Linked DNA regions of Homo sapiens: region 1 is linked to region 2. Evidence: fine-mapped expression QTL. A gene starts in region 2. The other region holds a variant in brackets. All regions are shown on one strand. Distances are between the middles of the regions. Region 1 overlaps PXK (PX domain containing serine/threonine kinase like). Region 2 holds the start of PDHB (pyruvate dehydrogenase E1 subunit beta).

Region 1 (5,381 bases), 40 kb before region 2:
TGGTGACCAAAACAGTACCCTGATATTCCCTTCCATGTTTTCAGGCTGACCTTGGCCCAGACAAGTATTTGTCAGATAAAGATTTTCAGTGTCTAATCAAACTTCTGCCTTCTTGTTTGGTGAGTATACGTCTTTCTTTTATTCTCAGTGCTGATGATAGAGTCACAGTATTTTTTCTGGGTGAACATGGACAGAAAAGCTGGAAAACAGAATGGGGAGATACAGTGGATTTCAGGTCAGACTGAAATTGTGTAGGGCTAATCTCTTAGATCATAGGCTATTTGAAATGGCATTCATGACATCTGCACAACCCATGAAACATAGTAATTTAAATACAGACTTTGAATTTTAAACAAAGATGAGAGTAGGGAAGCAGCTACTTCTCCCAGCCTGTTGTTCTTGGTGAAGGTATTTATCTCAGTGGAACTGAAAGATACTCTTTCCAGCCTGAGAAAACAGAACTAATGAGGAATTTAGATAAGCTGGGTGAAGAAAAGGCAAAATAGCCATTTTTCTGTCTGAGTTACTACCTTCACAGGCTAACCAGATGACCTTTAGGAATACATGATATTATTTACACGACTACACAGCTCTAATCCAGGGCCTTCAGTGCAAAGAACCACGTTGATATATTTCAAAATATGTGCAGAATGTCTTCAGCAAAGACTAATCTGGCCAGGAAATTGAGTTAACATTGACATTCTTTATCTTGTCTGCATGAAGATGTAGTTCCCTGGAATGAATCACTAGCGAACTGAACACAATTACACTGACTTGTGCACTTGGTTTGGCAAGTTTATTTTTGGCCATATAGTGTCTTGTCAAGCTTGCAAACCAAGCTATTAATGAGGTGCAATGTGAGGCCAAAAAGACGCTTTAGTCTTAGAGCTTGATTGGTTGTGTGACATAGGCTGTCAGGACCTAGTTCTAAATTTCTTTTTTTTTTTTTTCAAGGTGGAGTCTCTCTTTGTCACCCAGGCTGGAATGCAGTGGTGCGATCTCGGCTCACTGCAACCTCCACCTCCTGGGTTCAGGCGATTCTCCTGCCTCAGCCTCCCAAGTAGCTGGGATTACAGGTGCATGCCACCACACCCAGCTAATTTTTGTATTTTTAGTAGAGATGGGGTTTCACCATGTTGGCCGGGCAGATCTTGAACTCCTGACCTCATGATCCGCCTGCCTCGACTTCCCAAAGTGCTGGGATGACAGGTGTGAGCCACCGCACCCGGCCCTAAATTTCTTTTAATAGAAGTGCTTCTTTAAAAAAAGAAGCACATAAAAATGGTGCATATTAATTGTAGCAAAGTCAGAAGGCAGATAAGCAAAAATAAGAAAATAAGCCGAGTGTGGTGGCTCATGCCTGTAATCCCAGCACTTTGGGAGGCTGAGGCGGATGGATCACAAGGTCAGGAGATCGAAACCATCCTGGCTAACATGGTGAAACCCTGTCTCTACTAAAAATAGAAAAAATTAGCTGGACGTGGTGGTGGGCACCTGTGGTCCCAGCTACTAGGAAGGCTGAGGCAGGAGAATGGCGTGAACCCGGGAGGCGGAGCTTGCAGTGAGCCGAGATCGTGCCACTGCACTCCAGCCTGGGCAACAGAGCAGACTCCGTCTCAAAAAAAAAGAAAGAAAAGAAAAGAAAACTCACCAGTAATCCCAGTCAAACAGAAGTATGAACCAAAATATTCAGTTGTTACTTTTTAAGAATTTTTATGATAAAAAAGTAAATTATATATGTAGTGCTTTAAAACCTGATTTTTTTTTCATTAATGGTGTACCATGAGCATCTTTAGTTGTTAGTAAATATAGCATCATTATTATGGGCTGTATAGAATTATCATTGGCTATACCTTAGTTTACTCAATCTTCTATTGACATTTAGATCACCTCCAGCTTTTTGCTCTTATTTTTTAAAAAAGAAAAAAGCCATAATGAACAATTTTTGCTAAACATTATACCCATACTTAATTTCTTAAGGTAAATACCTATAATTAATAACCAATGTGTAAGGAGATATTGTGACACTACATATTCTGTTCTTTATGAAGCCCACTAGCATTTTAACATTTAATGTGATTTTCTAACTCTATTATTCCTTCCGTATTTACTTATTAGTTGGCATTCTACTCTAAAGAGCTTCTCTTCTCCCTTTTAAAAAAATTTATATTAGTATGTACTCAAGGATTTTTATTCTACCCATTGTGTTTCTTTTTGGGGTGATGAAAATGTTCTATAATTAGATTGTATGATGGTTGTATAACTGAATATACTGAAAATCATTGACTTGTACAGTTTAAATGTGTGAATAGTAATGGCATGTGAATTATATCTCAACAAAGCTGTTAAAAAGTCAGCAGCAACCATTTTGATGTGATGATCAGGAGAACTTCATGATCAATTACTCTGTTTTCCTGGGTACACCTTTCCACCCCCCAACCTGCTGCATGCCAGCCTCCAAAATCCCTGCATAGCTCAGCTCCCATGGGTTTAAATTTTCATGATACTCCTTTGAGCTAGTGAACATTGTAATACCTGTCTGGACCCAGTTTGTTTCACGTAACCAGAATTCCAGGGAAAAACAGCACTTTCCTTTCACTCATTAAATAATTTGTCTTTTCTCCACCCCAGTTGCTTAATGTCAGTTTCTCCATCTGAGGAGGACACTGTGAATCTTTATGTTGCAGAATTCTATAGAAGGGTAGGAAGATTCATGCCAGCTACTGTGGAAAGGGCTGAGATTCCAGAAGATGCTACTTTTGCCTGTTTTCTGGCTAGTATGCTTCTTGGCTTGGCACCCAAACAGCAGTGTGGAATGTTAGGCAAAGCTGTGAGCAAAGACACATTGATCCTGGTCTCCATTTGGCTGTTCTGAGATTTGGCTGTATTCTTTACTGACTTACAGAGACAGGATATTAACACTATTATCCTCAAAACTCAGACATTTTATCTCTTCCACCACACTTTTGCCTGAGCTATGAGAGTGCACACACCAAAGAGGACCCCTTC[A/T]CTTGTGGAGTTTACCACATCCATTATCTGTCTCCTGTTTTCCTTTGTTCCTACAGTTTATGTCCCTTCCTCCATCTGAAGAAGGAGGAACTAGCTGGTAACTGAATAACTTGAAAATGCCATGTGTTCAGGGAATATCACTACATTCGTATGCAATTAAACCACCACAGTGCTACTTGACTCTGCATAACCAGATCCTGTATTTAAAAGGACCTAGATCCTGACGCAAATCAATGTGAATTTCTTTTTTGTTTTGACAGCACCCTTACATCTATCGGGTTACCTTTGCCACAGCTAATGAATCCTCAGCGTTGCTAATTAGGATGTTTAACGAAAAGGGAACATTGAAGGATCTGATCTACAAGGTACCTGTGCAAGTTCATGGTCATAAGGAATTCTCAAGTTCCTTTAGAACCTGTTATTGATACTTAGTCTCTAAGACTCCAGAGGCTAGGCCCTGAGGATTTGATGTTAGTTTTGATTTTATTTGGAATTTATTTTTATTCATGCAATAAAAACTCTACTTAGTTTGGTTAAAGAGCATTCCTTTTCCCATGTGAGGAAAGGTTGAACATTTAATAATTATGTCCATTACATGGCAAGCTGTTCTCTTAGGTCAGTTTTTAAGTTTGTGTTTTGCGCTTAACAAAGCAGTTCTGAAGAATTCGAACAATATGCAAGACTTTGGGGTCTGCTAAGGGCAAGACCAGGCACATCTTCACTGGGCTAGAGAAGGGATGGAACCTGGGTCAGCCTCTTTCTATCAACAATGCAGACTGTCGTATTTTAAAAACTCACATCTTGCAGCTGGCCATCTCTGGCGCCCCTAGCCTCTGTAGAATCCTGCCTGGTCAGGGAGTCTGTGTGCAGATATTGGCCCCTCTGCTGCTTTCTTACGTGTTCTTTGTTCTTTTCCAAAGGCAAAACCAAAAGACCCATTTCTAAAGAAGTACTGCAACCCTAAGAAGATTCAGGGCCTGGAACTCCAGCAAATAAAAACATATGGACGGCAAATATTAGAGGTAAGAGGTACTTTTGTTTAAGTTGCATTCAGATTTCATCCAAAATTGCATTATTCACCTGGAAAAGTTCTTAAGTAATATCCAAAATTACTTAAGTTGTCTGATTACTTATAAACTGATTGCATTGTCATATTTTGCCTCAAAAAGTAAATATTTGAGACTAAGGCAACAGTCACTTATGTCTACAAAATTCTTAAAGCTTTAGCTATTGCAATTTAGTGTCTGAGTTTTAAGAACTTTACTGTGTGGATACCAACTTTTATATTATCTTTGGTTGCTCTTTATCCCCATGCCAAGGTTTTTGATTTTGTTATGTCATATGCATAGCCATATGGCTCCCTTACAGAAGTATAACCAACAGTGAGAAGGCTTTCCGACATCACCCTCTAGATCAGGATTCTCCAAGCTTCTGGGATTATGCAACCTTATCAGTAATAACCAATTTAATATCCCAATGTTATGTCTATTTAACTATAAATTATATGCGTGTACTATGCACATACATATATGTGTATGTGTGTATATATATTATATTTGTTTGGATGGAGACAGCATACTAGTAATATATTTTGTATATTATAAGTTAAAAAAATAACATTTTTAAAAAACAACAACTATGAAGAGAAGTTGTAATATTTTCTTCTAGTCCTTAGTGAATTGCTCTGGGCACCCCACTTGCCTATCACTGCTCTAGTTCACCAGGACATTGCAGGGCTATATCTAAGCATCTCTCTTACTGGGTAAGCCACTGATTATTTATATGGCAGCGGAAATATTTACTGCTTTTTCTGGGATCCTGTTGTGTGTTCCTATTAATAAACAGCTAAATATATTTGGAGGAGAGACTGAACTAGAGATGTTTTCTAGTTCAACCCCTTTTTCTGAATTACTGGCAGAAGCACTGATAAGATAGCTTCACTCATCTATGCAGGAGGATCAAGACTTTGCCCTGAAGAGAGCTGGCCTATTGGAATCAGAAAGTGCTTAAAGCAGAGCCTTTTGGCATCAGAGTTATTAATTCCAAGCATATGCAGGCTGCTTCTCTATTCTTTTGAGGAAAGAAAGAACTGATGTTGCATCTCACAGCCTCAAAACTGGAAAGCATTCAGCTTCACTTCCTTTTCCAAACAAATGGGTAGAGGTGGCATTTTTCTTCAGGAATCTTCTCAGTGACCTGTTTGGTTTTGTTTCAAAATATATTGACTAAAAAACAAAGTTTAACTTGTCTTATATCTGAATGAGTTTGGGGAAAATGTAACTTTCCCATATGTTTTGATAGGTACTGAAGTTTCTTCATGACAAGGGATTCCCTTATGGGCATCTTCACGCCTCCAATGTGATGCTCGATGG
Region 2 (5,381 bases):
ATAGCTGCACCTACAGCAATTCCAGCAAAGCCCATCTATAAAGTAAAATATAAACATAAGTGAAAATCCATAAAAATGAGGATAATGGACACTAACAGACATGCCCTCCAGGGTCTGCTTCCCACTGGAAGGCTTACCTCTGATATGGGAGTGTCAATAATCCTCTTGTCTCCATATTTCTTCCACAGCCCTCGACTAACCTACAATTAAGAGTTGATCCCTTAAGTGTATCTGGGGGTAACAGTGACCTCAATTTTGTATAACTTTCATATATTTTAGTTACCTTGTATGCCCCATCATACTGGGCAACTTCTTCTCCAAGCAGAAATACCTTCTCATCTCTTTCCAGCTCCTCATCCATACCCTGATTTATAGCATCACGAACTGTCACCTGTCACAGGTATGCAAAAACAGTCAATACAGAATTGTTTGGGATTCAACTAAGATTTTCTTCCTTTATATTTACCTAGGCTGCCCACAGCATACAATATAAAAACACTAGAACAAGCTTCTCTCTAAAAACTCAAAGAATTCTAAAAGTAACATTTCTATTACACATAGTTGGTCTTTGCATGTGTTAATGTACTGAGTGCTCACTAGGTGCCAAGTACTGCCAAATACTTTGCATCCAGAATGTAGGAGTTGCTCTTTTAATATAATGAATGGTAAAATCTAGTTAAAAAAAGGAAGGAGAGGAGAATTAACATACAATCCATCAATTCCACTTCTATGTATATGCCCCAAATAATTGAAAGCAGGGATTCAAGCATATACTTGCACATCAATGTTCACAGCAGCATTACTCACAATAGACAAAACAAGGCCAGGCACGGTGGCTCACACCTGTAATTCCAGCACTCTGGGAGGCCAAGGCAGGTGGATCACTTGAGGTCAGGAGTTCGAGACCACCCTGGCCAACATGGTGAAACCCATTCTCTACTAAAAATACAAAAATTGGCCGGGTGTGGTGGCGGGTGCCTGTAATCCCAGCTACTCGGGAGGCTGAGGCAGAATTGCTTGAACCCAGGAGGCAGAGATTGCAGTGAGCTGAGATAGTGCCACTGCACTCTAGCCTGGGCAGCAAGAGCAAAACTCCGTCTCAAAAAAAAAAAAGAAAATGTCGGGCTGAGCGAGGTGGCTCATGCCTGTAATCCTAGCACTTTGGGAGGCCAAGGCAGGCAGATCACTTGAGGCCAGGAGTTCAAGACCAGCCTGGGCAATATGGTGAGACCCTGTCTGTACTAAAAATACAAAAATTAGCCCGGTGTGGTGGCACCGGCATCTAATCACAGCTACTCAGGAGTGTGAGGCGCGAGAATCCCTTGAGCCCAGGAGGTGGAGGTTGCAGTGAGCTGAGATCGCGCCACTGCACTCCAACCTGGGTGACAGAGGGAGACTATCTCAAAAAAATATACATATATATATTATTCAGCCTTAGGAAAGAATCAAACTCTGACGCATGCTACAACATGGATGAACCTTGAGGACATTACGCTGAGATAAGCCAGACACAAAAGGACAAATGATGCCACTTATAAGAAGTTCTAGAATAGGCAACCTCATAAAGACAGAAAAGTACAACAGGGGTTACCAGGGGTTTGGGGAAGGGAAATGAGGAGTTACCGAGTAATGGACAGTTTCTGCTTGGGATGATTAAAAAGTTCTGGAAATGGATGGTGGTTAATGGTTGTACAACATGGTGAATGTACTTAATGCCACTGAATTATACACTTCTAAAAAGTACATTTTAAGTTAGGTCTATTTTGCTGCAATTTAAAGAAAAAAACATGGAGTGAGGGAGGAAACGCCTAGTCTTAGTTTTCCCCCATTGCCCAGCCAGCTGTGAGGTGGTGACTCGCCGGTGTGCTAATTGCCAGGCGGCGACAGAGGCAGCAGGAGCTCCACGGAGGATGCTGGCTCCGCAAACCCAAGGCCCACGGCGCCGGAAGGCCACAGCGCAGGCGCGACTCCGGCCTCCTTCCCGAGAGAAGGGGGGACCCTCCCCGCCCTCGTCCGACGAGCACCCGCGCCTGTTACCTGCAGCGCAGCCGGCGCGGTCCAGTGAAAGCGCCTCTTCAGCAGCCCGGAGACCTGGCAGGGAGAGAGGAAGATGACGGCGGGACGCAGGGTGGGCAGGGGTCGCGTGGGAATACAGGCCGCGCGCTGCTGCCTACCTCCCGAAGGGGTCTCCGCACCAAGCCAGACACCGCCGCCATCTTGGTCGTGTCCTCTATCCGCTGCCAAACGACAACAGAGGGGCCGGCAGACGTGAGCAGGCCCCGCCTCCACCGGCGCGGGCCAATGGCAAGGCGCGCCGGCTGCGTGACCCGCCCACCCGCCCACCGGGTGAGGGGCCGCGGGGCCGGGCTGAGGTGGCGTGTGGGTGGCCGTGCCCCTCTGCCTGGAGCCGCCTCAAATCAACTTTATTGACAGTAGGCGGTGACCGACAGGCGGGGTGCACGCTGGGCACACGTGCCTGGTCGGTGTTACTTGAAGCGTGGGGACTAGAAGTCAGACCCTGAGGAGCATGATCTCTGGAAGCTGGAGAGACCTTAAGAGTTAGGCCAACCTGTTGTGGGTGCTGGAATCCTTTGGGCACCAAGAAGTGCTTGCACACGCTCTACTGATGGGGAACTTAACACTTCATGAGTGAGTCTAGTCTTCCCTGGACAGTGCTGTCTGTTGATTCCTTATAATGCACATCATAGCTTTCATTGATTGCATTAAGCACCTACTGTGAGCCAAGCATTGAGATATGTGCTGTATAGCTCATTCTCACAGTACCCCACTTGGGTAATTAGTGTTATTATTATCTCCATTTTGAAGACGGTTAAACTGAAGCAGAAATTGATTAAATGAGCCGATATTTTAATTTAGGACTGTCTTGACTCTAAAGCATGGTCTTTTTCCCACTGCTTCCTAAAGCAGAAGTGGATTCCTGCTTGGGGGAAGGTTACAACAACTTTAGAGAAGGGCGGCCCTATGGATGTAGCAGGACAAGCCGCAGACGAAACTCCTCAGACACCGAGTTAAAGAAGGAAGGGGTTTATTCGGCCAGGGGCATGGGCAAGACTCTTGTCTCAAGAGCCGAGCTCCCTGAATGGGCAATTCCTGTCCCTTTTAAGGGCTCACAGCTCTAAGGAGGTGTGCGTGAGAGGGTCATGATTGATTGAGCAAGCAGGGGGTATGTGACTAGGGGCTGCAAGCACCGGTAATTAGACTGGAACAGGATAGGGATTTTCACAGTGCTTTTCTATACAATGTCTGTAATCTATAGTTAACATAACCGATTAGGTCGGGGTCGATCTTTACCAGGCCCAGGGTGTGGCACCAGGCTGTCTGTTTGTGGATTTCATTTCTGCCTTTTAGTTTTTACTTTTTCTTTCTTTGGAGGCAGAAATTGGGCATAAGACAATATGAGGGGTGGTCTCCTCCCTTATGGGGAGGTGCCAAACACTTGGCCATAGGGACAACCTCTGGAAGCTCATTAGTCTTAATTTGGCCCTTGGGGGTCAGATGGGACAATTGAGCACCCAGTCTCCACCCATCCCCAAGACATTCCAAACATTCCCTTCTATGGATCACAGCTGCAGGCTGCCAAATTAGGAATTTGCAACTTCCAGTAGGTTGCTGACTGGGAATGGGAGGGGGTGGAGGCAAAGGCAGAACAGGCGGATGCTGGGAAGTCTGTGGCAGCAACAGAGGCAGACTAGGAGGCAACTTCCAGATGGAGAGGAGGGGGACAGTTTTGAGATCTATTTGGGCTAGAATCAATAGGAATGCTGTAAGTGCTAGGGAAGAGCAGAGGAAAATTTTGGATTTTTGTCATTGCTGGATGGATAGATGGGGTAAGGGAGGAGCCTGGGGCAGTGTAAGTGCCAGGAGCTGGGGAAGTAAGAGTGTATTTTTGTTTATTTTTTGAGATGGAGTTTCACTCTGTCACCCAGGCTGAAGTGCAGTGGGCCTCACTGCAACCTCTGCCTCCCAGGTTCAAGCTATTCCCCTGCTTCAGCCTCCCGAGTAGCTGGGATTACAGGCACCTGCCACCATGCCCGGCTAATTTTTTTTATTTTTAGTAGAGATGAGTTTTCACTATGTTGACCAGGCTGATGTTGAACTCTTGACCTCAAGTGATCCACCCGCCTCAGCCTCCCAAAGTGCTGGGATTACAGGCATGAGCCACTGCAGCCAGCCTTTATTCTTTAGATGACTGGGACATACCCAGGTTGCCTGGAGCCTAGGGCCTAGTCAGGGCTAAAGGTAGAAATTTGGGGACAGCTGCATAGAGATGACATTTACTCTCTGGGACTGTTTCATCTGTAAAATGGATAGAAGATCTTCAAGATATGGAATCAACACCTTCTGAGTCTCCCTCACCTGCCACCATCGTCTAGTCCCAACTGTCCCTGCCAGGGCCTCAGGAATGGCCAGCACTTCCTAGACTGCCACAGCATCCCTGAGAAACTCCTGAACTTGAGATTTCAGCCCCCAAAAGTTTGTGGGTGGTGCTCAGAATGAAAAAGTGAATCAGTCCTTCCCACCTTTCCCACAACCTAGCACCAAAAGATTTCAGGATCAGATTTGCCAAGCAAAAGGAGATGTTACAGGAAAGCAGTCCCGATCGAGATCCCAAGAGAGAGTTCTTGGATCTCACACAAGAAAGAATTCAGGGCAAGTCCACAGTGCAAAGCAAAAGCAAGTTTATTAAGAAAGTAAAGCAATAAAAGAATGGCTACTCTATAGACAGAGCAGCCCTGAGGGCTGCTGATTGCCCATTTTTATGATTATTTCTTGATTTTATACTAAACAAGGGGTGGATTATTCATGCCTCCCCTTTTTAGACCATATAGGGTAACTTCTTGACATTGCCGTGGCATTTATAAACTGTCATGGCGCTGGTGGGAGTGTAGCAGTGAGGATGACCAGAGGTCATGCTCATCGCCGTCTTGGTTTTGGTGGGTTTTGGCCAGCTTCTTTCCTGCAACCTGTTTTATCAGCAAGGTCTTTATGACCTGTATCTTGTGCTGACCTCCTATCTCATCCTGTGACTGAGAATGCCTAACTGTCTGGGAATGCAGCCCTGTAGGTCTCTGCCTCATTTTACCCAGCTCCTATTCAAGATGGAGTTGCTCTGGTTCACATTCCTCTGACATTTGCCTCCTCCCTATTATGAGAGAAACTTTAATCCTAAAAGTTTCGGAGGGATGAAGATGCATCTTCTGTAACTTCTTCAGGCTGAATAGGGGTGATGATATTCCTGCTTAACTATTAGGGTCCCTTATGTTCAGAGTAGAGAGGAGCTCAGAAAACATCAGTATAGTGAGGGCCATTCATAACTCCAAGTTCTGACAAAAGGTGATATCTGGAAGATTAATAAGTAT

What was found.
Region 1: its variant is fine-mapped to the expression of PDHB in spinal cord (GTEx, PIP above 0.99). The same link has a PIP of 0.9 or more in cerebellum, pituitary, substantia nigra and tibial artery.

The regions. Positions count from the first base shown.
Region 1 is chr3:58,391,729-58,397,109 of GRCh38, forward strand. PXK (PX domain containing serine/threonine kinase like) reads left to right here. Exons shown (of 18, transcript NM_017771.5): 7 at 45-119; 8 at 3,270-3,374; 9 at 3,930-4,031; 10 at 5,311-5,381. Among named protein-coding and RNA genes, the nearest start is that of PDHB, 39 kb to the right of the region's middle. The variant A/T (reference allele first, on the strand shown) is at 3,010.
Region 2 is chr3:58,431,594-58,436,974 of GRCh38, forward strand. PDHB (pyruvate dehydrogenase E1 subunit beta) reads right to left here and starts at 2,239. Exons shown (of 10, transcript NM_000925.4): 1 at 2,175-2,239; 2 at 2,038-2,091; 3 at 284-391; 4 at 138-200; 5 at 1-35. The coding sequence starts at 2,216. It overlaps LOC107986092 (a long non-coding RNA gene), which reads left to right and starts at 2,002. Exons shown (of 4, transcript XR_007095933.1): 1 at 2,002-2,649. RefSeq lists enhancers at 1,995-2,214, 3,257-3,866 and a silencer at 2,275-2,514.